2 separate regions of the Homo sapiens genome follow, and region 2 is linked to region 1. Evidence: fine-mapped expression QTL. A gene starts in region 1. The other region holds a variant in brackets. All regions are shown on one strand. Distances are from middle to middle.

The links. PIP is the estimated chance that this variant, and not a neighbour inherited with it, causes the effect.
Region 2: its variant is fine-mapped to the expression of TBC1D22A in tibial artery (GTEx, PIP 0.90).

The regions. Positions count from the first base shown.
Region 1 is chr22:46,756,279-46,771,185 of GRCh38, reverse strand. It overlaps TBC1D22A (TBC1 domain family member 22A), which reads right to left and starts at 8,536. Exons shown (of 13, transcript NM_014346.5): 1 at 8,338-8,536. The coding sequence starts at 8,399. It overlaps TBC1D22A-DT (TBC1D22A divergent transcript), which reads left to right and starts at 8,658. Exons shown (of 1, transcript NR_186691.1): 1 at 8,658-9,275. RefSeq lists enhancers at 6,819-6,868, 6,889-6,968, 7,009-7,078, 8,009-8,088, 8,789-8,918 and 5 more and a silencer at 7,829-7,888.
Region 2 is chr22:47,163,777-47,178,683 of GRCh38, reverse strand. It overlaps TBC1D22A (TBC1 domain family member 22A), which reads right to left. Exons shown (of 13, transcript NM_014346.5): 13 at 2,991-5,186. The coding sequence ends at 5,058. Among named protein-coding and RNA genes, the nearest start is that of TBC1D22A-AS1, 260 kb to the right of the region's middle. RefSeq lists enhancers at 1,743-2,833, 6,931-7,430, 13,251-13,828. The variant T/C (reference allele first, on the strand shown) is at 6,124.

The DNA of each region.
Region 1 (14,907 bases):
CCAAAATTGTCAGGGATCAATCATTTTTGTCTTCATTTAAAATTAACCCAGAGTCCAGATTTACTCTATCAGACGAATATGTAAGAGAAAGGAAATATGATTCACATTCAATTTATTTTTCAAAGTGTTTCTGGACAAAGTAAGACATTTAATAACATGGAAAGTAACCGCTGAAAGGAACAAGAAAAGGAACTGCACCTACAGCAAAATCTCACCCACCAGCTCTTCCGCGGCCCCCGTCACAGGAAGGTCATCTCCACTCACAAACAAGAAGAGAAACCCAACTGGCGGGGAACACACAATCACTGCCGGAACAAGACTCCGGGGCTTCCCTCTGCATGGAAAACAGGACTGAGGGTTCTTACCCAATAAACAATCTCTTCAAAACATAAGCAAAAGGCAATACAGATTTATAAAAAACACAAGAAAGCAAGGCGGCCAGAAGCAGCAGCCAACATTCTGAGGAAAGAGGCAGGGCTCTATTTGGTTCCTAGGCCTGAGCAGGACATAGGACATAGGAAGAACCCTCCGAGCTGACTTCAGTCCCCTGGGTTTAAACACACTTTGTGGAGGTTACCCAGTGACCACCCCCAAGGCCGCTGACCAAGGTACTCCTGCCCACATCCAAGTGCAGGACTCTGCTGAGGGAGGTGCTGGGCCACCTGCCATTCCCTGTCAGACATCCCTCGGCACAGTCCCCAACTCTTCACAGCTGCTGTAACAAATTACCACAGCTTAAAACATGCATTCACTATCTCGAAGTTCTGAAGGTCAGAAATCCGGCATGGGTCTCATCACACTGAAGTCCAGGCGTCAGCCAGCTGTGCCCCTTCCGGGAGGCTCGAAGGGAGAACCCCTTTCCTGCTCACTCCGGTTGGCGGCAGAATTCAGCTCCTGGCGGATGCAGGAGCAAGGCCTTGCTCTCCTGTTAGCCATCTGCAGAAGGCCTTTCGCAGCTTCTAGAAGCCGCGCCACATTCCTGGTGGCTGCCTCCTCCATCTGCAAAGCCAGCCGCTGTGGGTGGAGTCCATCCCACACCATGTCTCTGACCACGTCCAAAAGCTCGTGAGGTTACACTGGGCCCACCAGGTAACAGGACAATTCCCCCATTTCAGGTCAGCTGATTAGCGACCTTAATTCCCCTCTGCCATGTAACAGAACATATTCACAGGGGTCAGGGATGAGGATGAGGACACCTTTAGGGGGCCAGTATTCTGCCTACCACACTCCCATCCCCTCAGGCCAGCACCCTGGAGATCACCTCGACCCCCAGCACCCCGCCCATCAGTGAATCCTGAGTGTGCCATGTGTACCCTGAACATGCCCGATCCTCTCCAACCCCACAGCATCTGGCCTCGGCCTCCTCAGAAGCCCACCAGTTTCCTCTCTCGCCCTCTCTTCAAGGATGACAAACAGTGTCACAGTATCACACCCCTCCCTGTTTAAAACCCTTCAACACTCTCTCATGGCTCTTAGGACCACAGCTCAGATCTTCACCATGGCCTTGGAAGCAGCTCCAGTGCCTGCTCACCACCCTCCATGCCCCTCCTCCCCAGTCAAGCGCTCCCCACTCCTATACACCCTCCCCTGACCTCAGCAGCCAGATCGGTTCCTGCTGTACAGCCAGGTCTCGGCGGAAGCGGGACCTGTGTAAGGAGGACATGAGCATTCCACCCAGTGAGGGCCTTGCTACTCTGCCAGGGTCCCGGGACTGCCACCTGCCCAGCACTGCAGTCTGTGCGCATGTGTTCACAGGGCAGGCGTCCAGCCGTGAAGAGCCACATGGCTTGCTCAGCACGCACCACAGCACCTGGCACAGGAGAGGAGCTCGTAAACGTTTTCCAAATGAATTCATTATCCCCAACAGTGCCTCTCCTTCGGCTGAGGACGGACTGTGGCCTATTCAGCCGACCGTCTGATTTGCTCACAGACATCTCGTGGCTCTGGCAATGTAAGCTGAAGGCTGTCAGAGCCACATCACTAAGAACCCTCTTGTGCTCCAGCTTTATCCCAGCACTCACATCCTTGCCATGCTCAATTTGGGCCTTTCTTGCTACCATAACACTTTCTTTTTTTTTTTTTTTTTTTTTTTGAGACAGAGTCTTGCCCTGTCGCCCAGGCTAGAGTGCAGTGACGCGATCTCAGCTCACTGCAACCTCCACCTCCCAGATTCAAATGATTCTCCTGCTTCAGCCTCCTGAGTAGCTGGGATTATAGATGCCTGCCACAATGTCCAGCTATTTTTTGTATTTTTAGTAGAGACGGGGTTTCACCATGTTGGTCAGGCTGGTCTCGAACTGCTGACCTCAGGTGATCCACCCGCCTGGGCCCCCCAAAGTGCTGAGATGACAGGCATGAGCCAGAGCGCCCAGCCACCACCATGCCACTTTCAAACGTCATACTCCACATACCCCAGCTGCCTGCATACCCTCTGTCAGCAGACCACACCCTGCCAGGCGGAGCTGAGCTAAAATAGCAAACATCAGACCCACACTGAAAGACTGCCTGTGTTCTCAAGCCCAGTGTGCTGTGATTTTGTCTTGGCATTTTTAAAGTGAAGTGTGGCGAGAATTCCAACTGCAACTGCGGAAAGCAACAGCCCTTCGGGAGCCAAGAGAGTCAGCGGCCCGGGAAAGAACCAGCCCAGACAGTCAGAGACTGAACCTTCAGATTCTATTTTTTTTTTTTTTTTTTTTTTTTTGAGACAGAGTCTCGCTCTGTTGCCCAGGCTGCGGGGCGGTGGCGCGACCTTGGCTCACTGCAACCTCTGCCTCCTGTGTTCAAGCGACTCTCCTGCCTCAGCCTCCCAAGCAGCTGGGATTACAGGCGCCTGCCACCACGCCTGGCTAACTTTTGTATTTTTAGTAGAGACGGGGTTTCACCATGTTGGCCAGGCTGGTCTCAAACTCCTGACCTCAAGTGATCCACCCACCTCAGCCTCCCAAAGTGCTGGGATTACCGGCGTGAGCCACCGCGCCCGGCCAAACCTTCGGATTCTTATCACTTACCATTTCTTGCCACCACCACAGCTTCCACTCAGGTGCAAGCCGCCACCACCAGTGACCACTGGACGCTGCGGCACCCTGGCCTCCTGGTCTCCCTGCTTCTGCCCTTGCCCCGACTCCCAACGCCTCCAATCTGTCTTCAGTACAGCAGCCAAAGATATCCCATTAAACCTAATGCAGACCATGCCACTTCTCTGCTCAAAGCCCTCCAAAGGTTCCCCATTCAGCCAGAATCAAAGAACAGTCCATGTCTTCACTGTGGTCATGAGGCCCTACCCCACCACCTTTCATGACGCACCCCACGACTCTCCCCTTCTCTCGGCCAGACCCACCCTGGCCCCAGCTCCTCTCCTCAAGCACGCCAGCATCGCTCTGGGAGTCCTCTGCACCTGCTCACTCCTCTGCCAGGACCGCTCTTCCCCAGCCTCCTGGTTGGCCTGTTCCCTCACCTCGTGCAAATCTTTCCTCAAATGTCACCTCAGTGAAGGGCTCCTTCTCACCACCACACCTGCCACTAAGCCACCTAGTCCTCTTTCCCAGCATTGTTTTGATAGCAGCTGTCACCTTCCAACAGTTAACTCCATTTAACTGAGCTATGTTATTTATACCCGGCTCTCCCACTGCACTGTAAGCTCTGGGAGAGCAGAGATCTAGGTCTATTTTGTTCACTAATATTATCTCCAGCACCTGGGGCTGTTCCTAACACATACTATGGGTTGAATACATATTTGCTGGATCAGCAAATCATCAAATTCTCAAAACTGGTCCAAGAAGCCCATTCTTTTCTCCTCAAAGAGAATCGTGCTAAGCCAAAGATATCTCCCCATTTGCCATAGCTACTTAAACCAAACTCAACCGCTTTGTGCTACAGATACAGACACTGATGGCCCCAGAGGTAACTTGGTGAAGACCACTACCGGAAAAAGAAAGTTAAAATCTGGACCACCAACTCCTAGTCCTCTGACTAGGAGGGTCTATCTACCACACCACACATCCTGGCTCATCCAGAAACAAAGTTTCTAGGAAAGCGTCAGCCACATATGCAACCTAAGGACCAGGGTGTGCATAAACCGAGGGTCTACCAGCAAGACCACCTCTCCTGCAGTTTATAGCCCTGGCCAAACCACTCACTCTCCAGGCTAATCGAGGAGATAGTTCGGAATAAACACCAGGTATCGGTACTGACAATGCAAGAATGAGAAAGATACTTTTCCTAAACCTGTGGATCTCACTAGTGAAAGCAAGCACATACCAGGGAGAACAGGAAGCCAGAGGCACCAACAACACTGAGTTTGATGCAAAAAAGGGGGACTTTAGTTCAGGCTGCATAAAAACAGGAGGTGTGGGCCGGGCACGGTGGCTCATGCCTGGAATCTCAGCACTTGGGGAGGCCAAGGCGGGCGGATCATGAGGTCAAGAGATCGAGACCATCCACACCAACATGTTGAAACCACATCTCTACTAAAAATACAAAAAAATTAGCTGGGCATGGTGGTGGGCGCCTGTAATCCCAGTTACTTTGGCAGCAGAGGCAGGAAGATCACTTGAACCCGGGAGGCAGTGATTGCAGTGAGTCTAGATCACACCACTGCACTCCAGTCTGGGCGACAGAGCGAGACTCCATCTCAAAAATAAAAAAGAGTTGAACTATCTGAAAGATCCCTTACTAGTCTTGTATTGTACAGTGGGTGTAGTCTTCCTCCTGAGTTTCCTTGAGATGAGGGCTGCACTCAAAAACAAAGAGGAAAACAAGGCTGGGTGTGGTGGCTCACGCCTGTAATCCCAGAACTTTGGGAGGCTGAAGCTGGTGGATCACATGATCAGGAGTTCAAGACCAGCCTGGCCAACATGGTGAAACCCCATCTCTACTAAAAATACAAAAATTGCCGGGCACAGTGGCTCAAGCCTGTAATCCCAGCACGTTGGGAGACCGAGGCAGGAGGATCACAAGGTCAGGAGATCGAGACTATCCTGGCTAGCACGGTGAAACCCCGTCTCTACCAAAAATATAAAAAATTAGCCAGGTGTGGTGGCAGGCGCCTGTAGTCCCAGCTACTCGGGAGGCTGAGGCAGGAAAATGGCGTGAACCCGGGAGGCGGAGCTTGCAGTGAGCCGAGATCGCACCACTGCACTCCAGCCTGGACAACAGAGTGAGACTCCGTCTCAAAAAAAATACACACACACACACACACACACACACACACACACACACACACACACACATAAATTAGCTGGGCGTGGTGGCCAGTGCCTATAATCCCATCTACTCAGGAGGCTGAGGCAGGAGAACTGCTTCAACCGGGACCCAGGAGGTGGAGGTAGCAGTGAGCTGAGATCATGCCACTGCACTCCAGCCTGGACTACAGAGAGAGACTCTTGTCTCAGAAAAAAAAAAAAAAAAAGGAGGAAAACAAGGCCAGGCATGGAGGCTCACGCCTATAATCCCAGCACTTTGGGAGGCTGAGGTGGATGGATCACCTGAGGTCAGGAGTTCGAGACTAGCCTGGCCGACATGGCGAAACCCCATCTCTACTAAAAATACAAAAAAACAGACAGGCGTGCTGGTGGGCGCCTGTAATCCCAGCTACTTGGGAGGCTGAGACAGGAGAATCACTTGAACCTGGGAGGCAGAGGTTGCAGTGAGCCAAGATCACACCACTGCACTCCAGCCTGGGCAACACAGTGAGACTCCATCTCAAAAAAAACAAAAACAAAAACAAAAACAAAAAAAGAAAGAAAACAATCATGGGAAACAATTGAAAGAGCTGCCAAAGCCACAGGAACCTGGCTAGGATCTCCACTAGCACTGTGCTTGCATAGGTGTGGACTAAATAAATACGCAGCTAGTGACCAATCACCACTACTGATAGGAAAACGGGCACCCCTCTGTGACTCCTCCTTCAGGGAAGAGTTCCAGCCTGCCACCTGAAAGAGCAGCACTGCCAGAGGCTTGAGCCACAAGACGGATGGGAGACACAGAGGCTTCACAGGCCTTCCTGGTGCACCCAACCTCTCCTTCTTCTTCTGCCCTCTTCAGTGACAGCCTCGAACTCTCCAAGACTCCAACTTCACAAAGGTAATACAGAAGCTGCTCTCAAAAGTGCCTAAGACACAGAATAGCATCAAAGTCAGAGGAAAAGGAAAGCTGGTGTTCGGTATTTCAGGTTCACACAGAAGAAAGCTGGAGACTGTATTAGTCTCCTGTGGCTGCCATAACAAATTACCACCAACTGAATGGCTTAACACAACAGACACTTATTCTCTCTCAGTTTTAAACGCCAAAAACCCAAAATCAAGTGGTCATCTGCAGGGCCATGCTCTCTGTCAAGTCTCTAGGTGAGCATCCTTCCTTGCCTCTTCTAGCTTCTGGTGGCTGCCAGCAACCCCTGGCTTTCCTTGGCTTGTAAATGTACTATTCCAATCTCTGTTTCTGTCTCCATAGGGCCATTTCCCTGTGTGTGTCTCTCTGTATTCAAATTTCCCTCTTTTTATAAAAATACTAGTTGACGAACTAAGGCCCACCCTCATCCAGTATGACCTCATTTTACCTTGATTACTTGTGCAAAAACCCTATTTCCAAATGTCACATCCATAGTTTCCAGATGGACATAAATTCAACTCAGTATAAGGACAAATTACCAAGAGCCACAGCCTTCAATCCAAAGGTTGAGTCACTGCTGTAACTCCACACAGCAGCTCTGTTATTCTTACATCTAAGCTGATTAAGAATTAGAGTTTAGACTGATGAGGAACCAAAACCTTAAGACCTAAAAGTAACACATAAAAGTTACACTGTCATGTGGCTCCTCTTCCCTGGACTCTTATGTTCTACAGCATTTGTTCCTGTCACTACCAGGACCTCCTACCCACCACCATTCCAGAATCTTCACTCACCTTGGACCCTGACACTGGTTTTGTTGAAAGGTCTTACTGTTCTCGAATCAAGCACGGTCCTGTGGAGTCGAATAGGGTCTCCGGCCACCTTTGATGACTCCCTTCATTCTCAAAGCCACTGTCTGAGCTGTCAGTAACTCACGCTGCTAACCCCCAGATCACTCTTAAAAGTAAACTTTCCTTTTTTTTTTTGAGACAGAGTTTCGCTCTTATTGCCCAGGATGGAGTGCAATGGAACGATCTCGGCTCACTGCAACCTCCACCTCCCAGGTTCAAGTGATTCTCCTGCCTCAGCCTCCCAAGTAGCCAGGATTACAGGCATGTGCCACCATGCCCAGCTAATTTTGTATTTTTAGTAGAGACTAGGTTTCTCCATGTTGGTGAGGCTGGTCTCAAACTCCTGACCTCAGGTGATCTGTCCACCTCGACCTCCCAAAGTGCTGGGATTACAGGCGTGAGCCGCCACACCTGGCCAAAAGTAAACTTTTCTAACTGGATGCAGTAAATTCCAAAGTTTATCATTCAAACACTCAAACAATAATATTTATTATGAAACAGGAGTACAAACCATTTTACTGTGTTTATGAATGATTCTACTCAGACTTATCTTCGTAACACAATTCATAATTTTCAGCATTCCAGACTTCAGCTTTGGAACAGAACTATGTTCTGAAATCTTGACGTTTGCTTATCTCTGATCTGTTTTCACCAGTGGCTGATTTTATCCTAGGTACCCTCCACGTAATGTCTCATTCCCTAGGGCCCTGGCATAGCTCAGCGCCACAGCAATCAGACAAGGACTCTGGAGCTCTGGAGCTGTATAGCATCTAGGGTGTACCCAGGTCATTCCAGCCGAAGAAAAAAAAAAAAAAAAAAAAAAAAAAAAAAAAAACTTCCTGCTAACACAACATAGGAGGTGGTTTTGACACCAGCAAGCAGAAACATGGAAACTCACAGGGAAACTCTAGTCCTCTTCTATGCTCAAGGCAAGAGCCGCAGCCCTCAAGAGACCACAGGCAAATCAAGTGGGTCAAAAACACCACACCCCCTGCAGAAACTGATCCACCCAGCAGACGGGGGGCCTCAGCCCGGCCAGCTTCCGGACTCCACCAAACTTCACAGCATGACCCGAATCAGTTCCTTCCAGCCTCCCCAAGGAGCCCAGGAGTTTCTCGGAAAGAAGCCTGCCAGTGTCAGGAAAAACGCCAATAGCTCCTCCTCGTCCTTGCAAGCCTCGATCCTACGTGCAGCCACTGTCACCCCCAGACCCCACGCTCCGACCTCCGAGCCCCCCAACGCCCGTCACACCATCCAGCAGTCTCCTCAGAGTCCAAGTTGCCCTCTCCAGACCCCCGACTCCACCCGCAGCCCAGGAGGCCAACGCGGCCACCTGACCTCTGACCCCTGACCCCGACCTGGCCCTCCGCGGCACACCCACCTGCCCGGGAGCTTGCTGTTGCTGCGCTTCCAGAATTGCTTCCTGGCCCCGTCGCTGGCCATGGCCCCTCCTCATCCCTCAGACCCGCGGCCCAGACACCCCGAGTGCACCCGGCCCTCCCCTAGCGGCCCTTTCCTGTGCCCCGGGTGGCCCCTCACTGCTCCCGGGACTCCAGAGCCTAGAGCCGAGAAGCTCTTCCGCCTCCTTCCGGAAGTTGTGCCTACGCGCGCCCGGAAGTCCCGCCTAAGTCCCTGGTGGCGAGTGACGCAGCACTCCGAGCGCCCGTCGTTATTAAAGGGCGACGCCGCGCAACGCACGTTACACGCATCGCGGAGGGAGCGGAGGTGGTTGGGTTTCTGAGTTTGAGTCTGTCGCTCCTGGCTCTCCCGACACAACAGCGGCGCCCACCTGCCCGCAACGGACTCCCAGGAGCCTCGAGCTCCTCATTTCCAAAGCTGAACTGCCCCGTGTCTGATTCCGATTTCTCTTGAGCGCGTTTCGGAGCCGGCCCAGAACAGAGGGAAGCCAGACACACCATACCCGGCCCAACAGTGGCAGGGCGGCTGCGGGTGCTGGTCAAGCTGGGTCACCCGGCACTGAGTGACGATCAGCAAATACTCAGTGGACGAAATATTTGCAGTGCAGTGAGGTGAGGGGCATAACCGCGGAGCGTATTCGAAGAGATGAGAGAGACTGGGGATTAGGCCAGGCTTGAAGGGAAGAATGGTTTGAGCACCGAGGACAAGAATTAATTCCCCAGGCCTGGGTTCCAGCCTTGTGCGGCTATCACGTGCTTGAAACCTGGCTAGTCCGGAGTGAGATGCGCTTTACGTGTAAAATACAGGATTCCAAAGACGTCGTATAAAATAATTTGTATATTGTTTGCATGTTAGGTAACATTTTTAATGTATTGGATTAAATAAAATGCATTAAAATTATTTTTACATTCCTTTTACTCTTTTTAAAATTATTTTTACCTTTTTTATTCTTTTTTTCCGGGGGGGACTGGGGGTGGGTGTCTTGCTATGTTGCCCAGGCTAGTCTCGAACTCCTGCCCTCTAGTGATCCTCCTGCCTCACCCTCCCCAGTAGTTGGAACTGCAGGTGCACACGTTATGACTAGATCTTTTTACTGTGTGTGTGTGTGTGTGTGTGTGTGTGTGCAGAAAATCACTAAAAAAACCGTGTCTGGTTTGCATTACATTTCTGTGCTTCTTAGACCAAAGATTGAATGCTCAGGGACTGTCATTTCAGACTGGAGCTTTAGTGTATTTGGAGCTCCTGCCAGTTCTCTTTTAAAACAAAAATCTAAGACATATTTTCTGATTAAGAATTTCCCTGGAGGCTGAGGCAGGAGAATAGCGTGAACCCGTGAGGCAGAGCTTGCAGTGAGCCCAGATCGTGCCACTGCACTCCAGGCTGGGCGACAGAGCGAAACTCCGTCTCAAAAATAATAACAATTTCCCATGCCTCTTCATTTACTGGTAAGTAACATTGACTTAGTACTTACTATGTGCAAGGCGTCCTACTCTCCTAGAATCCTCTCCTAGTAGGGCTCAGAAGGCCCCAGGGGTCTCCTCCTGACAGAGCCCTGACAGCCTCAGACAGTGAGGTCCCCTACAGACAACACTGAGGACCATGGCGGTTCTTTCCAGCTCAGTCTGGCTTATTGCAAGAACCAGTGAGCGAGGTGACAGCAGGATTAACCTGATGGAAGGGGAAAGGAAGGAAGAACTGAAACAATTGACAGAGGAAAAACTGGCAGCACTTAGTGACTGGTTACACCTTAGATCCGGGTGCTTTTTATAGCTTACCGTATACTTTGCTAGCTACTGTTTTCAGGCGAAGGAGTGAGGCTGAGATTGACTTGAAGGCTTCAAAACCAGCTAAGCAAAGGATTACTAGGATCACAACAGAAACGTGAAGATGGAAAAAGAAAGTCTGAGTAGAAGGCCAGTTTTGAAAGCCAAAGTAATACAGATGTTGGAGTCTACATATGGGACCTAGGAATTGGGACAGATTCTCAAATCCCAGAGGTATGGAATGGAACATTTTTTATTCATTTTTGCAACAAGTATTGAGCAGCAATGCAAATTAAAACTAAGGACATACCATGTTACACTTAACAGATTGGCAAAAACTTAAAAACCTGTCTTTACCAAACTTAATAAGGATGTGGATTTGTGAGCAGAGCAGAACTCTCTTGCACTGCCAGTAGGAGTGTACGTTCATTCACTAACTTTGGATGGCCACTTAGCAATTTCTAGCAAAGATACTCTATAACTTAGCAATTCCACTCTTGGTATGTGCTCTAGAGTACCTTGCCTATGCGTGCAAACACAAGAATGTTCAGTGCAACGTTGCTTCTAGTGGTAGTTGGGGTCTGGGGGAGAAGCAACCAAAATGCCATCTATGGCAGAATCGATAATCTACACAGTTATGCAGTAGAATACCATAAGTTAGTAAAAATGAATACATTAGTTGCATACATCAACATAAATGAATTTTGCAAACTGTGGGGTTGTTTTTGAAATGGGGCTTACTATGTTCCCCCGGCTGGCCACAAAATCCTGGGCTCAAGTGATCCACCTCAGCCTCCTGAGTAGCTGAGTACAGATGCAAGCACTACCGCACCTGACTCCACAGTGTTGAATGAGAAAAAGTTGAATATTAATTCACATGGTATGATACCATTTAGTACTATTTTCTTTTAAAGGATGAGAATGCGACCAGGTATGGTGGCTCATGCCTGTAATCGCAGCACTTTAGGAGGCTGAGGCAGGAGGATCCCTTGAGCCCAGGAGTTTGAGGCTGCAGCAAGCTGTGATCATGTCACTGCACTCCAGCCTTGGCGATAGTGCCAAACCCTATCTCAAAAAAAAAAAAAAAAAACCAGAATGGTAAAAGATAAATTCAGGAGGGTGGTTGCCTATAGGTACAGGTGGGGACTGTGAACAGGAAGGAATTCATTCATAGCGGATCAATTGTGCTATTATGCTTTGTTTCCTAAGGCAGATGGGCTATATTCAGGTGTTGGTTATATTCTTTATGAGTTTTTACATGTATAAAATGTTTCATAATACATTAAAATATAGTTATTGAGTTTGAACTGTGCTATGCACTGAGCTACATTGAACTACATGATAAGGCAAACAAAAGTGCAGCAGGCCAGGCACAGTGGCTCACACCTATAATACCAGTACTTTGGGAGGCTGAGGCGAGAGGATCACTTGAGACCAGGAGATCAACACTAGCCTGGGCAACATAGGGAGACCCCATCTCTGTGAAACTTTTTTTTTTTTCTTTTAGCCAGTCATGGTGGTAAACACTCTTAGTCCTAGCTACTTAGGAGACTGAGGCAGGAGGATCACTTGAGCCCAGAAGTTCAAGGCAGCAGTGAGCTAGGATCACACAACTGCACTCCAGCCTAGAAAACAGTGAGACCCTGCCTCAAAAAAACAAACAAAAAAAAATTGGGATAGTATTTCAGGATGGCTGGATTTGCAATGCCATTTGGGTTCCTCGGGAAGTGTTTTCTGCTTTCTTTGCTTTCAGATGGCCTGCTCCGGGCTTAGAATATCTCTCACAGGACCTTACTGAGTGAGCTGCCACACTCCCACTTGGTGGGTTCTGCCTCCTAAGTTTCCTGGTGCTGTACCGTCCATAGGCACCGAGCCTGTGCCCCAAAGTAAAAAGCTGACTGTTCTATCTGTATTGGTTTCCTAAGGCTGCTGTTGGCAGAATGCTGCAGACTTAGCGGCTGAAAACAATACACATTTACCCTCCTACAATCCTGGAGGTCAGAAGTCCAAAGTCTTAGCACTTCACTGCACTAAACTCAAAGCGTCAGCAAGGCTGCCCCCTTCTGGAGGTTCTAGGGGAGAGTCAGTTTCTTACCTTTTTCAGCTTCTAGAGGCCACTTAACATTCCTTGGCCGACACTCCTTCCTCTGTCTGGAAAGCAGATCACTCTAATCTCTACTGCCATCATCACATCATCTTCTCTCCTTCCGATTCCTCCTAGATCCCTCTGACCTCACGTCAGGCCCACTGGATAATCCGGTCCAGGCTGATCTCCCCATCACCCGGCCCTTAGCTCAATCACACCTGCAAACTCCCTTTGGCCATTTAAGGTAACATTTGCAGGTCCCAGGATTAAGTCCTGGTATATCTTCAGGGGTTCATTATTCAGCCTACCACAATAATAGACGGCATATAGCAAAGGTCCCCAGTTTCACACCGCGAGAGGCAGGCGTCGTCTTCACTGCCCCCTTCCCCAACTCCTTTCAGCCATTTTTATATTACAGGGACTAGCAACGTGCCATTTCCTGACACTAAGTCAGGATGAGTTAGGGTGCTGTTGGTTGCAAGAATGACAAAGTTCAGCTCAAATTAGCTTATACTACAAAGGGAATTAGTTGGTTAATGAAAAAGCCCAGAAGTAGCTCAGAAGGTTTGGAGAAGGGCTGATACAGCAGCTCAACAATGACCCAAGGGGCCTGTCTCCTTCTGTCAGTCTCTTAAGTCTTTGCCAAGGACAACTTCCCCTTGAGGTCACAGGATGCCTCTGTTGGGCCCCTGGGATCATGTGCTTACCTCTAGTCAGGATGCTAGAGAGCAGAAATACTGTGAACTAGTATCAGTCCCCGGGAAGGGAGCACTATACATTGCTTACCAATTCCAGGAGAGCACACTTAAACACCTCACCAATTTCTGCTGAGTTTCCTAAGACTGCCAGGAGGCTTTGCACAAACCCAGCAGCCAGAGTTCTGCAAGGGTTCTTGACTCTGGCAGGGGCTCAAAGCTGACCTAGCTGCTGCAGCTGTCATACCTCCACCCTCTGTATTCTTTTTTTTTTTGGGACGGCGTCTCACTCTGTCACCCAGGCTGGAGTGCAGTGGCGCAATCTTGGCTCACTGCAAGCACCACCTCCCAGGTTCACGCCATTCTCCTACCTTGGCCTCCCAAGTAGCTGGGACTACAGGCGCCCGCCACCACGCCCGGCTAATTTTTTGTATTTTTAGTAGAGACAGGTTTTCACCATGTTAGCCAGGATGGTCTTGATCTCCTGACCTCGTGATCCACCCACCTCAGCCTCCCAAAGTGCCGGGATTACAGGCGTGAGCCACCGCGCCTGGCCTACCCACTGCATTCTTAATGTCTAGTCTGGTAAAACAGAACACCTGCAAAACACGTCAGACAAAGCAACTTTATTATTCACAGAGAGGCCCCAAACATCAACCCAAGCCTAGGATCCATGGCGAGCCAGTCCACCAGCAATCAGGAAAGCTACCCAGGGCACTAGAGTGTTGTCTGCAGGTGCCCCCACTTCACACCACAGCTGAGGGGCGTGAAAAGCACACTCTACTCTGGGTTCTCTACCCCAAATGCAACTGGGTCCACTGGGCTACAGCATTGCAGGACATCCTGATCTAGGGGAGATGAGCACAAAGCCTGAGCTGTTCGGGACAGTTCCACCTTATCTCAGGATGTTGCAACCTCTGTATATTCTGCCCAAAAATTCTAAGCAAGAGGGGGAAGAGCTGGGTCATCCAGTGTCATTTGGGGACCTGTCACCTGGCAGATGCTCCATTGTAGCTGGCAATGAGAGTCAATCCTTCCAAATTTTGTGGCTGCTGCCCAACAAGGGAGGGTTAGAATCCCAATATCCAGGAACAATCCCAATATCCACTACAACACCAAAGGCCATGTTGAGAGAAACTGGTGGATTTGACAACTTAAAATGTTTACTTGTTTGTCAAAAAAAATGTTTTAATTGGACAAAATATATGTGCTATGTCTGACAAAGGGTTAATATATGGGAATCTTACAAATAAGGAAGTAGAAAACCACAATAGGAAATGGGTATGATTGTTTAAACCAAGTATATATTTTTCAAGCTTATCTTAAACTATAAATAAATCAAAGAATATGTTTTCAAAAGAAATACAGCTCTCTAGCTCCTGCTCTCAACATGTGACATGCCTGTTCCCGCTTCACCTTCCACCATGAGTAAAAGCTCCCTGAGGCCTCACCAGAAACCTAGCAGAGACCAACACGACACTTCCTGTACATCCTGCACAACCATGAGCCAATTCAACCTCTTTTCTTTATAAATTACCCGTCCTCAGGTATTCCTTTATAAACACCGCAAAAGTAGCCTAACACAGAAAACTGGTACCAAGAAGCAGGGCATTGCTGTAAAGACACCTTAAGAGTAATGACCTAGGGTAACTGGCAGAAGAAATTTCTAAGTAGCAAAGCATTCAAGAGGTGGCCTGCCTGCTTGTCACAGCCAATGATCATATATTGGAGCAAAGGAAAGTTGGAGCTCATATTTAAAAGGGAAGCAGAGCATGAAATTTTGGAAAATTTGCAGCCTGGCCATGTGGCAGGGAAAGAATCCAAGCAGGCTGGGGAGCAACCATTAGCTAGAGAGATTATCATCACTAAAAGGGAGCCAAGTGCTAATATCCAAGACAATGGAACAAAGGCCTCAAAGGCATTTGGGAGATCTTGGAGACAGCCCCTCCCATGACAGGCCCAGAGGCCTAGGAGGAAAGAATGGTTTG
Region 2 (14,907 bases), 410 kb before region 1:
CAACGAAAAACCACTGCAAAATATTCAGAAAAAAATACAGACTAAAAGAGAGAGGGTATTTGTTTTGTATTGCTGCATAACAGATGATCATAGACACAGCCCAAGGTCACGCAGCCAGCCCTGGTGGGGGCAAGTGGCTGGTGAATGATTTTCATTTCTGTAACCATTGGTGATGTGAACTTCTCATGGGTCACCTGCACCACTTTTGTGAACTGCCCATTTTCTGTGCTGTGCCCATTTTTATCAATTTCCAGGAACTCCGCATGCTGAGGAATCTGAATCCGCCTTGCCTAGGTGAACCAGCGTGTCATTCACACTTGTCTTTGGTGATGAAGGTTGGGTCTTAGTCGTCCCTGCCATTTGCTTTGGTAGCGCATACTACGGATATATATCATCAGTCTTTTTCTATCTTGTTTTTGCCACTGGCGTCATGCTAAGAAAGCCTTTTACCATTCCCAATGATAAAAATAGCCATGTATTTTTGAGTATTTGGGGGTAATTTTTATATTTACATCCACTTATCTGGAAGTTGAATATAATTTTTTTTCCTAAAAGAATAATCAGGCCGGGCGCGATGGCTCACACCTATAATCCCAGCACTTTGGGAGGTCGAGGTGGGCAGATCAGTTGAGGTCAGGAGTTCGAGACCAGCCTGGACAACATGGTGAAACCCCGTCTCTACTAAAACTACTAAAAAAATTAGCTGCGTGTCATGGCGGGCACCTGTCATCCCAGCTGCTCGGGAGGCTGAGGCATTAGAATCACTTGAACCCAGGAGGCAGAGGTTGCAGTGAGCTGAGATCACACCACTGCACTCCAGCCTGGGCCACAGAGCAAGACCCTGTCTCAAGAAATAAAAAAATAAAAAAAGAAAGAATAGCCAGCCTCATCTTGTCAACAAAATGGACTACGGCTGGGTCACTCACACAGGACCATGTAAGCGGCCGTGTGCCTCCTGGGTGGAGGCCATCCTGTGCTGGGGACCCTCCATGCCAAGGAGCTGCAGGGTGGGTGTGGAAAGGCCTCACAGCTGAGTGGGGGCCACCCCAAGCAGCCCGCAATCCCGCAGGGCAAAGTGCAGAGCCAGAAGGAAGCCAAGGGGCTGGGGCTGAGAGAGGAGAGGAACGGTGGGGTGGACTGGGGCTGGGAAGGCCCCAGGGAGGTCCACACCCCGAGGGGTCTGAGTCTTGGGCAAACTCCCCAGGACTGCGGCCGAGAGCAGATCACTGGGGCCACAGGGCTGACGAGGAGCCTCCAGCTCTGGAGGACGGCGGCATGGAGGCTGGCATGCTGCAGCCTGCGATGGCGCGTGTCATTCTGCAGCCTGTCCCCAAGTCCTCAGCGGAGTGGGTCTGCTTGAACACAGACAGTATTCCTCCTGTTTCCATCCATCGGTGACACGGCACAGAAGCGTCCCACCTCCTAGTTCTTCCAAAAGTACAAACCACAGAGACTCTCCATCTCCTACTCCCCAGGACCCCAATGCTCCCCGACGCGTCTGACCTTGCCAAGGGCACAGCAGTGGTGCCAGCAGGCCGAGCCTCTCCCTGGGACCGGGCAGGGTGAGGTGCACAGGACAGCAGCCACCACAGGTCAGGGATTGATTTCAGGACCCCTGGGCTCGGGCCACCCACAGGAGCAGAGTCTGCACAGGCTGTGAAGACCTCAAGTTGGGCCCGAGGAGCCAACTGCTGAGCTGCAAACTCCGGGGAATCGTGAAGGTGAATGGCAGTTGCTGGGCTGTGACCTGGAGTCAGGAGCTGAACACCTGGTGGCTGCTGGGGACAGCCGATCTCCGTCCTGCAGCCTACGACCCTGCAGACCACAGCCAGGCAACAGTGAGGTCAGCCCATGTGCCGGGCCACCGGGCCCAGGAAGGCAGCCCTGCCTGGCTCAGCTCCGCACTGGGTCACTGTGGAAAGAGAGGTGAAGAGGCTACTCCCACTTTGTGGAGCCACCAGCCCACCCGTGGGGACAGGAGCACACCCCACACCTACGGGGACAGGAGCACACCCCACACCTGGTCAGTAGTGCGCACCCCACACCCGTGGGGACAGGAGCACACCCCACACCCGTGGGGACTGGAGCACACCCCACAGCCGGTCAGTAGTGCACACCCCACACCCGCGGGGACAGGAGCACACCCCACACCCGCGGGGACAGGGGCACACCCCACACCCGCGGGGACAGGGGCACACCCCACACCCGCGGGGACAGGGGCACACCCCACACCCGCGGGGACAGGGGCACACCCCACACCCGCGGGGACAGGGGCACACCCCACACCCGCGGGGACAGGGGCACACCCCACACCCGCGGGGACAGGAGCACACCCCACACCCGTCAGCGGACAGCACAAGGCAGTGGAAAGCCAAGTGCTGCCAAGGGAGGGTCCCGAGGGTGGGGCACCCAGGGGGGTGTGGGGTACCTGAGGGTGGGGCACCCAGACGGGGTTACTCAGAGGGGTGTGGCGCACCTGGAAAGCTGCCCTGAGAAACTGAGGCCCTTTGAAGGGCCTTGCTTCAGTAACACAGGGCAAGGAGGGTGTTTCAGTGTGTGGGTGAGGGTGAGGCAAGTGTATCCCAGGAGAGGCGGGGGGGACCCCAGACCCTGGTGCCTACCCCGGAACAGCCCTTTTCAAAGCAGGTGCTTGACAGATGTGGCCCAAGGGGAGGTCCCTTGTTCAGGAGCCTGACAGGGGCCAGCCTGGACCCCACACTCCCGTGTTCCAGCTAGTGCAGAGCCGGGCTTCGGGGGTCAGACTGGTTTCTGAGTCTTGCCCCGCCCGGGCAAGTGGCATCCCTGCACCACCTGAGCAGCTGCAGCCCCATCTCCCTGAGAGGTCCTGCGGGGGGCAGCGAGATCACGGGTGCTGCCGGGCCCACGCTGGTGCGCCGCAATGGCCCTGAGCTCAGACCCTCGGCAGGGCTGGGCCAGGGTGCCCCTGTCCTCGATGGGCAAGTCCTCGAATCACAGGCCAAGGCCGCGGCTTTGTCACTGATCTTTATTCCGTGTTTTTAGCGCACCACATCCAGACAGCACACCCCGAACATTCCAGATGGATCTGCTCAGACTTAAGGCCCGCGGCCAACACCTCTCACATTCAGTCTTGGCGTTTACATACATGAGGAAATGCACACAGGGCTGAACTCCGTGGAGCTTCCTGTTTAAAACATCAACCACCTCGAGAAGCAGGTCAGTTGTGTCCGCAGCCTTCTGGCCACACGGCATGATCTGAGCTGGAGAAGGGGATCCTCCCAGGGCTGATCTCGGCAAAGCGACATGGGGCTTCCTGCACACGGCCGAGGGGCGGCTCTTCTTGTGACGGAATCCCCTCCCCATCTAGAAAAGGAGGCGGCAGGAGGAGGAGGCATGGCTGGTCTGAGGAACCCTTGACCCTGGGGTGGGGACACGGAAGGCAGGGGTAAGGCGTGCCCGCATCTGATGTGAAGCAAGCCCATCCCTTTGCTGGTTTGGGAGCATCTGACGTTTGCACAGCATTTTGTGCTAATTTCCATGCTGTGTGTAATGACCCTGGATTTTTAAAACAGAAGCAGAAACACACACATCACTTATGCCTGTATGTCCCACAGTCTCTGGCAGTGTCCTAGGGCCTGGGAGAGGACACGGCTGCTCCTGAGGGACAGAGGAGAGTCTGGGAAGTCAGTCACCAGTGGGTCGCTGAGGACGTGAGCCTGTCCTGGGCTCAGGGATCAGACAGACTGTGGCTGTGGCCCTGCCCGCATTCCAGGGGTCATGCAGCCTGTGACACACCGAGGGAACGCTGGGAAGCCAGTCCCAAGGCCCCTGGAGCCAAGGACACAGCCCTAGCAGGGCGCTGGGCAGGGACCAGCTCTGGGCCCTTCCGCACTTAGAGCCCCAAGGAACCAGTCCACAGCGGGAACCAGTCCAGGGCAGAACCAGTATACAGCGGGAACTGGTCCACGGCGGGAACCAGTCCACGGCAGAACCGGTCCAGGGCAGGAGTGGTCCAGGGCAGGAGTGGTCCATGGCGGAACCGGTCCATGGCGGAACCGGTCCACGGAGGAACCGGTCCATGGAGGAACCGGTCCATGATGGAACCAGTCACACCTCCCCTACACCTGGCAGACCTGGACAAGGACAGCAAGTCCCAGGAAGTCTCCAAAAGCTCATTCCGCTTCCAGGCTGCGGTGAGAAGAGCACTGTGGTTCAGGGCTTTGATGACAGGGACGCGACCCCCTGCCCGTCTGCCAGCCCAACATGGCCCGACAGCCTGGGTGGGCCTCCAGGGGCTCTGGCTGAGGCCGGCGCCTACCTGCGTGGCGGGGCCACTTGGCCCTGGACCTCAGGGAGGTGGGGGTTTCTCTCTTGTAAAAGAGGTTCAAGGTGGAAAGTAAGGCGATGGCGAGGCCTCCCTCTGCTCCCAGCCTTTGGTCCCACGGCCTCCCAGGCACTCGGCGGGCTCACGGCTTGGACTCCAGCCTTCAGCTTCCCAGCCACGTTTAAACCAAGCAAGCAGGAAAACACACGGAGGGAAAGGGCCAGCAGCAGTGAAATACAGCTGTGAGGGGACCTCGCGGCACAGAGACCCCGGGTCAGCGCAACGTCTCGGTCTAGATTTTGTCTACATTTTATTCTTTCACTCAACAGAATAGAAGTTTTGCATTTCAGAGTAGGTATGAGATGGCCACTACCTCGTTCCGGCCCTGGCACCCAGACAGCAGGACTCCAAAGAGGGTCGGCCTCCTAGGCTGCCCCGGACTAGGGGCAGCACGAGGCAGTCATTTGGCAAGGACATTGCAGGGAGAGGGAGAGGGGACCCCTGACCTGCCTCTGGCCGCCGAACCCGGGGCCCTCCCCTGGCTCTCTTTGGTATCTCAGAAAACAAAGGCTGTCCCTGTCTTTGTCAGCCCTAGACCAGGTCTGTGGCCCATCTTCACCAGCTCCCCTGGAGGGTGGGGCCACCTCACAAGGCCTTTTAGCAGCCCGGGACCAGCTCACAGGGGCCTACCACCAGCCAGGCAGGTGGGGCGCGCCACCCGGGACAGTGAGGCCAGCTGCGGGTGGGCCTGGGCTCATTTCTTGTAGTGATTGGGGGCGTCGGCAAAAGCAAACTTGAGGCGGTAGGCCTCGGCCAGCAACAGGCTGATGTCCTCATCATCCCAGTGGGCTGTGGGCAGGTTCTGGAGGAAGAGCAGCAGCTCCTGGGGAGAAAGAGACAAGCCCAGGTCAGAGGAGGTGACCCACGGTGGAGGGCGGGTGACCCCAGAAAACTGGAGGGAAAGATACAAGCCCAGGTCAGAGGAGGTGACCCACGGTGCAGGGCGGGTGATCCAGGAAAACTGGAGAGAAAGACACAAGCCCAGGTCAGAGGAGGTGACCCACAGTGGAGGGTGGGTGACCCAGGAAAACTTGCCCAGCCGGCAGCTGCTCCCTGCTCAACCCCAGAAGGGCCCCAGGCCTCGCCCCACGGCCACCGCCCCATCCCAGCAGCCAGGCAGGAGGCCCACTGCGCAGCTCCAAGTCCGGCATCTGAGATGTCGTGGCAGGGGCCGCCCAGAGCTTCATTTAACTGAATCCCCTGCCCCTCAGGGGGAGACCCAGCTCTCGGGGCCCTGCTGCAGCTTTGCAGCCTCCGCCCAGGAGCTTCCCACTCCCACAAAGCCTGTATCAGCCCAGGAAGTACCGCAGCACCCCTGGAACTGCCACTAAGCACAGATTTCTGTGCACCAGGAGACCCCTCCGGGCACCAGCACCATCAGCAGATGAAGCCCACACGAGGGGATCACAGAACGGAGCCGGCTCAGGCCCACCCCGGGAGCCCAGGAGCACAGCAAAGCGCCAACTGGCCCCTCCTGCATGACCACCTCACACCAGTGGGTTGGGGTGCAGGGCTCCACCAAACCCAGCTTCAGGTCTAGGTCCAACCTGGTGCCCTGGAACAATGACTCCACCCCGAGGCCCAGCTTCCTCCTCTGCAAAATGGGGCCACCATTTATTTATTTATTGCTTTCTAATGTGCTTATTTGCCTTAGACTGAGATTTAAAAATTAATTCCAGTTACAACCAAAGAAGGCCTTTCTGTGGAAGTGACATTTGATCAGACTCTTAAAATTCAGGTAGGATTCTCATAGGTAAAGA[T/C]AGGAGGTAAAAGGTTTTACATAAAGGTGAATGACATGCATGTAAGTAGGAAAATAGGGAACTATAGGGAATAAGCAACAATTATAAGTCGTTCAGTGTGGATAAAATCATCTTACATGTGTATTTTTAAAATCTCGCCTCCTGTACCCTTCATTCTCCCATTCTACTTCCCAGTCACAGCATTTATTGCATTGAATTCACATAGTACAAATTTTTATTTACTGTAGTAAATTACTGTCAGGGCTGCTGGACAGACTGGGAAAACACACATACGGCCAGCAGTACAGCCAGCACTGGGTGGGCACACAGTGGGCTCCATGGGCATGCTAGGTAGACACACCAGGCTCACTGAGCGGGCACACTGGGTGGACACACAAGGCTCACTGGGCATGCTGGGTGGGAACACCGGGCGGGCACACCGGACTCACTGGGCTCACTGGGCACTCTGGGTGAGCACACAGCTCACTGGGAGTGCTGGGTAGGCTCACTGGGAGTGCTGGGTAGGCTCACTGGGAGTGCTGGGTAGGCTCACTGGGAGTGCTGGGTAGGCACACTGGGCTCACCGGGCGCACTGGGCAGGTGCGTTGGGCTTACTGGGAGTGCTGGGTGGGCTCCTCTGGCCTGCAGCTGGGCCGTGTCTCAGATGGGCTATGGGGGCACTGAGTCCCACCCCCAAAAGACACATGGGCGACTGTCTCCAGAGCTCATGGTCTGGAGGCCGGGATGCGGACACTGAGGAGATGGAGACTGACCTACGTCCACTGAGGCCACAACGGGGAAGGAAAAGCACAGGTCCTCGGGGGACCCCCCACGACCACCGCCTGACAGCCCCGCCCTCCCACATGACCACGCCCACATCCACAGCTGCTGGCAGCCCACCAAGGGCAGGGCAGGTCTCCGGGGACCCCAACACACAGAGGGCTTGGCAGAAGTAGGGATCAGAGAGGGCTGAGTGGCCAAGACAGCCTCCTGCAGTGGGGGTTCTCAGAAGAGAAACAGGGGACCATCAGGTCAGGGCCAGCCCAAGCCCAGGCTCTGTCATGAAGCTGGGCAGACTCCCTGAGGGAGGGGTCTACACTGCTCAGATGGCCCTGTGGGCTCTGGTCCTCGAGAATTTGCCCCCAGGGGGCCACCTGCAGGCTCCCCGGCTTCTCCTACCTCCCACCCCAAACAGAAGCTGGATCCAGGAAGTCAGGAAGGCGGCTGAGGAGCCCTCAGGGTGCTGGAACTGCCCTTCCCCACTCCTAGCAGGTGACAAGGGACAGGGAGGGCCACAGGCTCGGGATGCCCATGTCGCCTGCCTCGAGAAAACGCAGCCCAGCAAGACTGGCATGGAGGGGAATGGGGGGTAGCTGGGCTCTGAAGTTCACATCCTGTCTTCCTGTCCAGGTGGTCTTGGGCAGTGGGCCTGGCTCTCCAAGCCACACTCTTCTTCATCTGGAGATAAGGATGGCAGGCTCTCCACATAGGCACAGCCAGGATGAGCTGAGCTGTGCAGGCACAGAGCCTGGACAGATGACCTGGGCTCACATCCTGGCTGTGCCGGAGGCTGCCGTCTGCATGTTGCCCCACCCTCACTGAGGCAGGCCCCCCGGCCATCCCGGAGCTGCGCTCTCCATTTCCGAATCAGGAAGATTACACACCAGGACTGCCCTCTCTCCGGTCCTGCATCAGGAGGGTTACACACCAGGACTGTCCTCTCTCCGGTCCTGCATCAGGAGGGTTACACACCAGGACTGCCCTCTCTCCGGTCCTGCATCAGGAGGGTTACACACCAGGACTGTCCTCTCTCCGGTCCTGCATCAGGAGGGTTACACACCAGGACTGTCCTCTCTCCGGTCCTGCATCAGGAGGGTTACACACCAGGACTGTCCTCTCTCTGGTCCTGCATCAGGAGGGTTACACACCAGGACTGTCCTCTCTCCGGTCCTGCATCAGGAGGGTTACACACCAGGACCGTCTTCCAATTGCTATTTCGCAGTTGCTGGGCTTCCACCCCCACTTCCTCAATTCCATTTCCTTTCGCATTTTGGATACTTTCAGTGGGCCTTTAAATTGAATTCAGGGAGCGAATTTCACTGGCTAAAAGTCCCTGGGGACATATCAACATCAATCTGCTGTCTTTCACCATTAGATGCAACTTACATGGATGCCAATCCAATTCTGAGCAGGTCATAAATAAATACCTTTGGTTTTATTTTTAATCCACTTCGCTTCATATTATCATGACCTCGCTCCTTGCAAGGTGAGAAGCAGTACCCTCCCATTACGGTAACTCACCGACTCTACTGCACACTCAATTTCAGAATCTAATTTAGTCCGCCAGGTTCACTGGATGGAGGGAGAATAGAAATGCCCAGTTCTTCGCAGCCTGCAATGCTAAAGAAGGAAAAATCTATCTGGGTGACCTTTACGGGAGGAGAAGAACACAGCCAAACACATCCTTAAATACAGATTTCTTTTTTAAAAAGGCTTGTCTTATTTATGCACTAGGCCACGTCGTCTCCTGTCTGGGAAACGCGGCACATTTATTAGCCAAGAGCTGTTCTGCATCACCCACACCAGGCAGGCAGAGGGGCCACCACGGGCGAAGCCATCCCTCGGTCACATTCAGGGACATGGCTCTCCCAGCAATGACGGTGCTGCCTGTCCAGGAGGGCAGGTGGAGAGAGGCCTGCCCAGGGCCCAGCCCAGAAAACTATAGACGGCACTTGCATTTTCATTCTTAACTTTTCCATAAACAATTAATGGCCACATCTGTGGATCTAAAAGTTAAAGGAAGGCTCTGCTCATCACACTGATGCTGTAGAAGTCAAGGTCGCGTCAGGTCTGCAATCCGTCCCTCCCCCGGTCCCTGGGGCACCACCATCTCAACAAAGCCACAGCCAGAGGGCAGCGTGGAGTGCACCCTGCCTTTCTCCATCAGCCTGTGTGCCGAGAATCCTTCCAGTGGACACCGAGTGTCTGCAAGGGCCCTTTGTAAAGGCTGTGGGGTCTGTGATCAGTGAGGGATCAAAAGCAACAGAATCAGACTCTCGCTGCATGGCCTGGAGGTTGACGGTTCTCAGGCCTGACCACATGTCCATCAGCACCCAAGGAGCTCAAAAAAATGCCCCATTGTCCTGGCCCCAGCCCAAGCAACTGACCTGGGATCTGGGAGGTGGGGCCTGGGGAGAGGGATGTGTTGGTTCTCAGGATGGTGGGCGACTTGGGTGTGCCCTAGACACTCTCGGACACATCATGAATCACAAGAGTGGACAGAGTTGCTCACGCTTTCCACCAGGCAACCCCTGTTGAAGTTGAGGGCCGGTGGGGGTGGGGGTTGGCCCTACCCACACCACCCAGGCAGAAGTGGAGCCCTGACTCACACACCACCATGCAGGCAAAGGCATCTCTCTAAAACGTCAGTGAGTGGGACACAGGGTGGAGGTGGGAAGCCAAGCTGGGATGTTTCCAACAGTTTCCCCCCATGGACCACACAGCAGTGGACCACACTTAGACAGAAGCCGCCATGCCGCTCACTCCTGCCCCGGGCGGGTTCCAACAGGTGAGGCTCCCAATGCCGGAGGGCAGGTGAGGCTCCCGATGCCGAAGAGCAGACGAGGCTCCCAATGCTGAGGCTCCCGATGCCGAAGACCAGGTGAGGCTTCCGATGCTGAAGAGCAGGCGAGGCTCCTGACACTGAAGAGCAGATATCGCCATGGCTTTGGCTACTTCTTACCAAAAGGGTTTTATTTTTCCTGAGTCAAACGAATCCTAGTGCCATCCGTGGAGGACACTGACCTCCCCCGCGTGCCAGGCCTTCCCAGGAAGGGTGAGACGGTGACAAGCCCGTGTCCTAGGGCCCCAGGCTCCAGAACAGTGGGTGGGTGGGTGGGTGGTTGACTGCAGACCCTGGGTTCCTTCGAGACCCTGAGCTCTGAGTGGCTGGCCCAGGGCTGAGGCTCATGTGAGAACGGGCAGCAGCGAGGGAAGCAAGATCACTGGATTAGATGCGGGAGTGCTGGGCCCGAGCCCGCCCCCAATGCTGCCTGACCCCACGAGCACTGCAGATGCGTCCCTGCTGCTCTCCCCAGCATCTCCACCATCTACTTCAACAGGTCTGTGTGTCCCTATATCCCCAAAACCGAGCCCACAGCACTTGGCTGGGCAGTGAGTTCTCCCCAGCATCTCCACCACCTACTACTTCAACAGGTCTGTGTGTCCCTATATCCCCAAAACCGAGCCCACAGCACTTTGCTGGGCAGTGAGTTCTCCCCAGCATCTCCACCACCTACTACTTCAACAGGTCTGTGTGTCCCTATATCCCCAAAACCGAGCCCACAGCACTTTGCTGGGCAGTGAGTTCTCCCCAGCATCTCCACCACTACTTCAACAGGTCTGTGTGTCCCTATATCCCCAAAACTGAGCCCACAGCACTTTGCTGGGCAGTGAACGTCGCAGAGTCCGGTGAAGCAACTAAAAGCACATCTGAATGTGCCCCACGGCCACGTTCAAATCCCAGCCCTGCATTTATTAGCTACACAACCCTGGGCAAGTCTCATAACCCTCCATGCCTCAGTTTCCTCATCTGTAAAATGGGATAATAATAGTGATAGCAACAGGAGACAGACAAGTTCCTAGACAGACAGGGATGGGTCCCCAGTGAAACCTGACCTTCAAGCCAAGGATACTTTTAGAGCCTGAGCACCTAACTGCCAGTTCTGGATAGAGTCCACGACCGGAGTGAGAACTTCCATCCCCGTCTTACCCACTCTCTTTCAACTGGTTCCTTCTGAATGATGCCCTTTATCCAATCGAATGGTGCTTTTTCCAAGCCCATCCATGGACCTATCAGCATGCACTCCCCCATTCAAAGCCCATAAAAACCCTGGACTTACCCTCACAGATGGCCACCCTGCTTTCAGGTCTCTTCTTGCAGCTGAGAGCTTTCTTTCTGTTCCTCAGTAAAATTCTACTCTGCCTTACTCTCTGGCGTCCACGTACCTTATTCCTCTTGGCTGTGGGACAAGAACCCAGAACTTGCCAAACTGCGAGAGCAAAAGAGCTGTAATGCTTGCTGAGCTGTGGGCGGCAGGAGTAAAAGAGCTGTAACCCTCCCTCCCACTTGCCGAGTTATGGGAGCAAAGAAGCTGCTGGGTGCCACTCCTTCCCACTTGGTGAACCGCTGGAGTGAAAAAGCCAGAAAAATAATAACTCCCTTATTAGGTTGTTGAATGTGTGCAAAGTGCCTTCGGCAATGCTTGAATGGCTGGTTACACCTTCCACTACGGGGCTTCTGGTGCCCACGATGAGCCAGGCACATGAAGGTTCCCCGCTGTGCACCTGCCTGGGTGTTACCTGGGTGTTACCTTTCTGTGTGTATATGCAAATTCAAGGACATGCATTTGCATGAAGAACTCCAAAAGGACCATCAGCCAAAGACGAACGTGGTCATCGTTGGGAGAAAACGTGATGATTTATTTTTTACTTATCCATAAATTCTAATCTTTTCAAAATAAACATGCATTAGCTGTATACTAAACATAATTTTTAAAATAAAAGAAGTATAGGGTCTGCTCTGAGATCATGCTGGATCCTCCTTGTCCGGCTGGGCAGCTGCCAGGACAGTGCCCCGCCTGGTGCTGGAGCTCTGCTTACAAGGGTAGGGAGAAGGCCAGGTGCTGTGGGGCATCCCCCACACTGCAGCTAGAGCACCTGGAGCACCAGCTCCCACCTGTACCCCGGCCTCTCTCCTCCAGCAAATGGGCCTGAGGTCCAGGCCCTTCATGCCAGACCTTCTCACAGGCACTGCAGGTGTTCACTGGGTGACCACATGCCCAGGGCTGCCTCATGCCGGGCCCCACTCCAGGCACTGAGGACACTCAGCCCACAGCCCTGCAGGGCGTACATGTATGAGTGTGTGTGCCAGTAGGTCAGGCAACAGATGGAGAAATAAACAAGAAAAGAGACAGTGTCCAGCACTATGCAGAGAAGCGTAATGGAACCATGGGATGCAGGCTACCGCAGACTTCGCCTTCAAGGGCCATGAGTGGTGCGTCTGAAACAGGGCGGGTCTGTGCAGAACACACTCTAGACTTTGAATATTTATTAAGAACAAAAGAATGTAAACTATTTCTTTTATAATTTTTATATTGATTCTAGGTTCAAATGATAGTATTTTGGGTGTTGGTTAAATATTTTATTAAAATTAATGACACCTGCCTCTTTCTTTGTTTTCACGTTCCTATGTGGCTGGTGACACATTCCTTCTGGACAGCACTGTTCTAGGTATAAATCCTGCCTCCCTCCTCTGCCTGCTCCAGGCCAGGGTCTGCTGGCAGCACTGACCAGTGCTTCCCTCCCCTGGACCCTCTGTGCACACTGAAGATACCGGAAGGCTCCCCCAGGCAGCAGGAAGGGCTGTGCGTGCAGTGGCAAAACTCGTCAACACCTGCTCCCGGGCACAGCAGAGAGCACACAGAGGTCCACTTAAAAGCTACTCAAGTCAGAAGTTTACAAATTGCCAACATGCAAAGATGAATAAATTAATCACGATGGGGCTAAAAGGCCCATTTGCCTACTCTTGTTATTTTCTTCCCCTAACAGAGAAAGATGAAACAGGATTCACCACGGTGACATGCGACGCGGGGAGCAGGGTTAATTGGTTTAATTTGCTTTTCCACAGCCTCCTGACACTCCGCGTGTGCAGCCTGGTGAGAAACCCTAACCACAGCAGGTGCTGTGGAGTGCCAGCTGTCTGCAGTGGGGAGGCCCTGATGCCACCTGGGGAGGCCGCTGAGGACCCCCGGGGTCCGGGGGGCAGGGCAGCAGCATGACATTTCCCAGCAGGAGGCCCTCGGGCATTTCTCTTGACCCCTCCGTCTTTTAGGTGAGGAACCTGAGGAGCGGACAGGCTGGGCAACTTGTCCCAGGAGGCATGCAGCAAGCCCGGCAACCCTGTGGCACCCACACTGCAGTCCCATTCCCCATACCACTGTCGGGGGCAGTGGGGCGGGCGACATGCCTGCTCTAGAGCCAGGCAGGCGACATGCCTGCTCCAGAGCCCAGCAGGCTAGACCTGGCTCTCCAAGCACTGTCCCTGGAGGACAAGCCCCTGTCTATGAGATGGCGATGGCGAGGGGAGCCACCCCCAGGCGAGAGGGGCAGCGATACCCGTGCTGGTGCAAAGAGCTCCAGAAACTCGCCCTGTTGTTTCGTGCTCATCATGACCACTGCCCTCTATCTGCAAGAGTTGCAGGCACCTCCTGGGAGGTGGCAGAGGAGCCCTTCGCAGGTGCCATGAGGGCTGAAGGGGTCCGCGCACCCCCTGGAGCGAGACAGGCAAACACGAGTCACTCCCCTACCCCTGACACATCCTCCTCACCACAGGGCCCTGGCAATCACGAGCCCTGGCAATCACAGGGGACGACGGCCACACTTGACAGAGCAGGAGGAGGCCAGGAGGGCTGAGGCCAGAACAAGAACAAAGGCCCTGCCATGCCTGGACTCCACCCCCTGCCCTGTGGAGAGGCTGGAGTGAGCACCGGATAGGCCCCTCTCGGTCTCACTGGCCCCTCACTGTCACTCCTACTCCCGAAATGACAACAGTCTCCATGGACCACACATTACAGAGGTCAAAGATCGTTGATCCTACCCAAACCCCCGGGCCTTTCTGCAGACAGTGGAGCATTTGTATTCCTCCTGCGCAGGGGCTGCAGGGTCTGAATCCATATTCAACATGAAGTATCCGCTTCCGTGACGTACATGTGCAGAGGAAGGAATGGGACCAGCTGAGATGAAATCATGGCGAAAAGGTCCGCTGCTGTCAGCGCTGCCAGCGGAGCGACCCCAGTGAACTTCAGGCTGCAGAAGACCCGCAGATTGTGCTTGGCCCACTTCAAGTTCCTGAATGAGGCCATTTCCTTCCTCCCGTGTCTCCATTTGGGCTGGGAAATTCCTGACTCGACACTGACATTCAGCCTTAGGAAACAGGCCCAGGAACCCTCTGTGGCCGAGAGACCGCCAGTCTCCTCAGCAAGGGCAGGGGAGACCCAGCACTCGACACACAGGCCATGCCAAGGCACAGGCCGTCCCATGCCCCAGGCAGGCTGGGACCCTCGCCGAAAAACCTCCCTAGGAGGAGCTCAACCTGACACTCCCCAGGTCCTGCCTGTCCTTCACACTCAGGTGACGAGGGGCTGCCCTGGACATGCATAAGTGACAAGTGCCTCCAAATCAGTTCCCTAACAAGACCTGCTGAGAGTACACTGGGCTTGTCAAACAGGACTTCAAGCTGGTGACCGAGGCCACAGAGGCCCATGTCTAAGGAGCCGGCAGAGTGTGTGCCTTTTCCTGTACAAATGAGAACGGCCTGCGGGGAGGGGCTCCTGCTCCAGTGCACACCCTCTGTGACACGCAGCTTCACGTGGCTGGGCCAGCTTTGCCTCACCCTTGGCGCAGCCCACGGAGGCCTCGGGCTCATCTGAAGCCGGCTCAGACCTCCGCACAGCAGCGTCAGAGACACAGGGCTCAGCTCTGTTACCTGGCGCGGTGATGGCTGCTTCGTACAAGGAAAAGCATGGGCCTTGGAGGTGTTGCCACTGGAAAGAAGTACGGCCATCTTCCCAAGGTGGCCATGGGCTGCTCACAGCCTAATGATGAACTTGGTGCTGATATGTGCAGTTATCCTGGGACAGGCGACCCACTGGACTCTTGGCGTCCCAGTGCTCATGAACCCTGCTCAGTGGTGCAAGTGTGTGCATGAGGAAACGACCCCGTGGTGCAGGTGTCAGGACCGGGTGG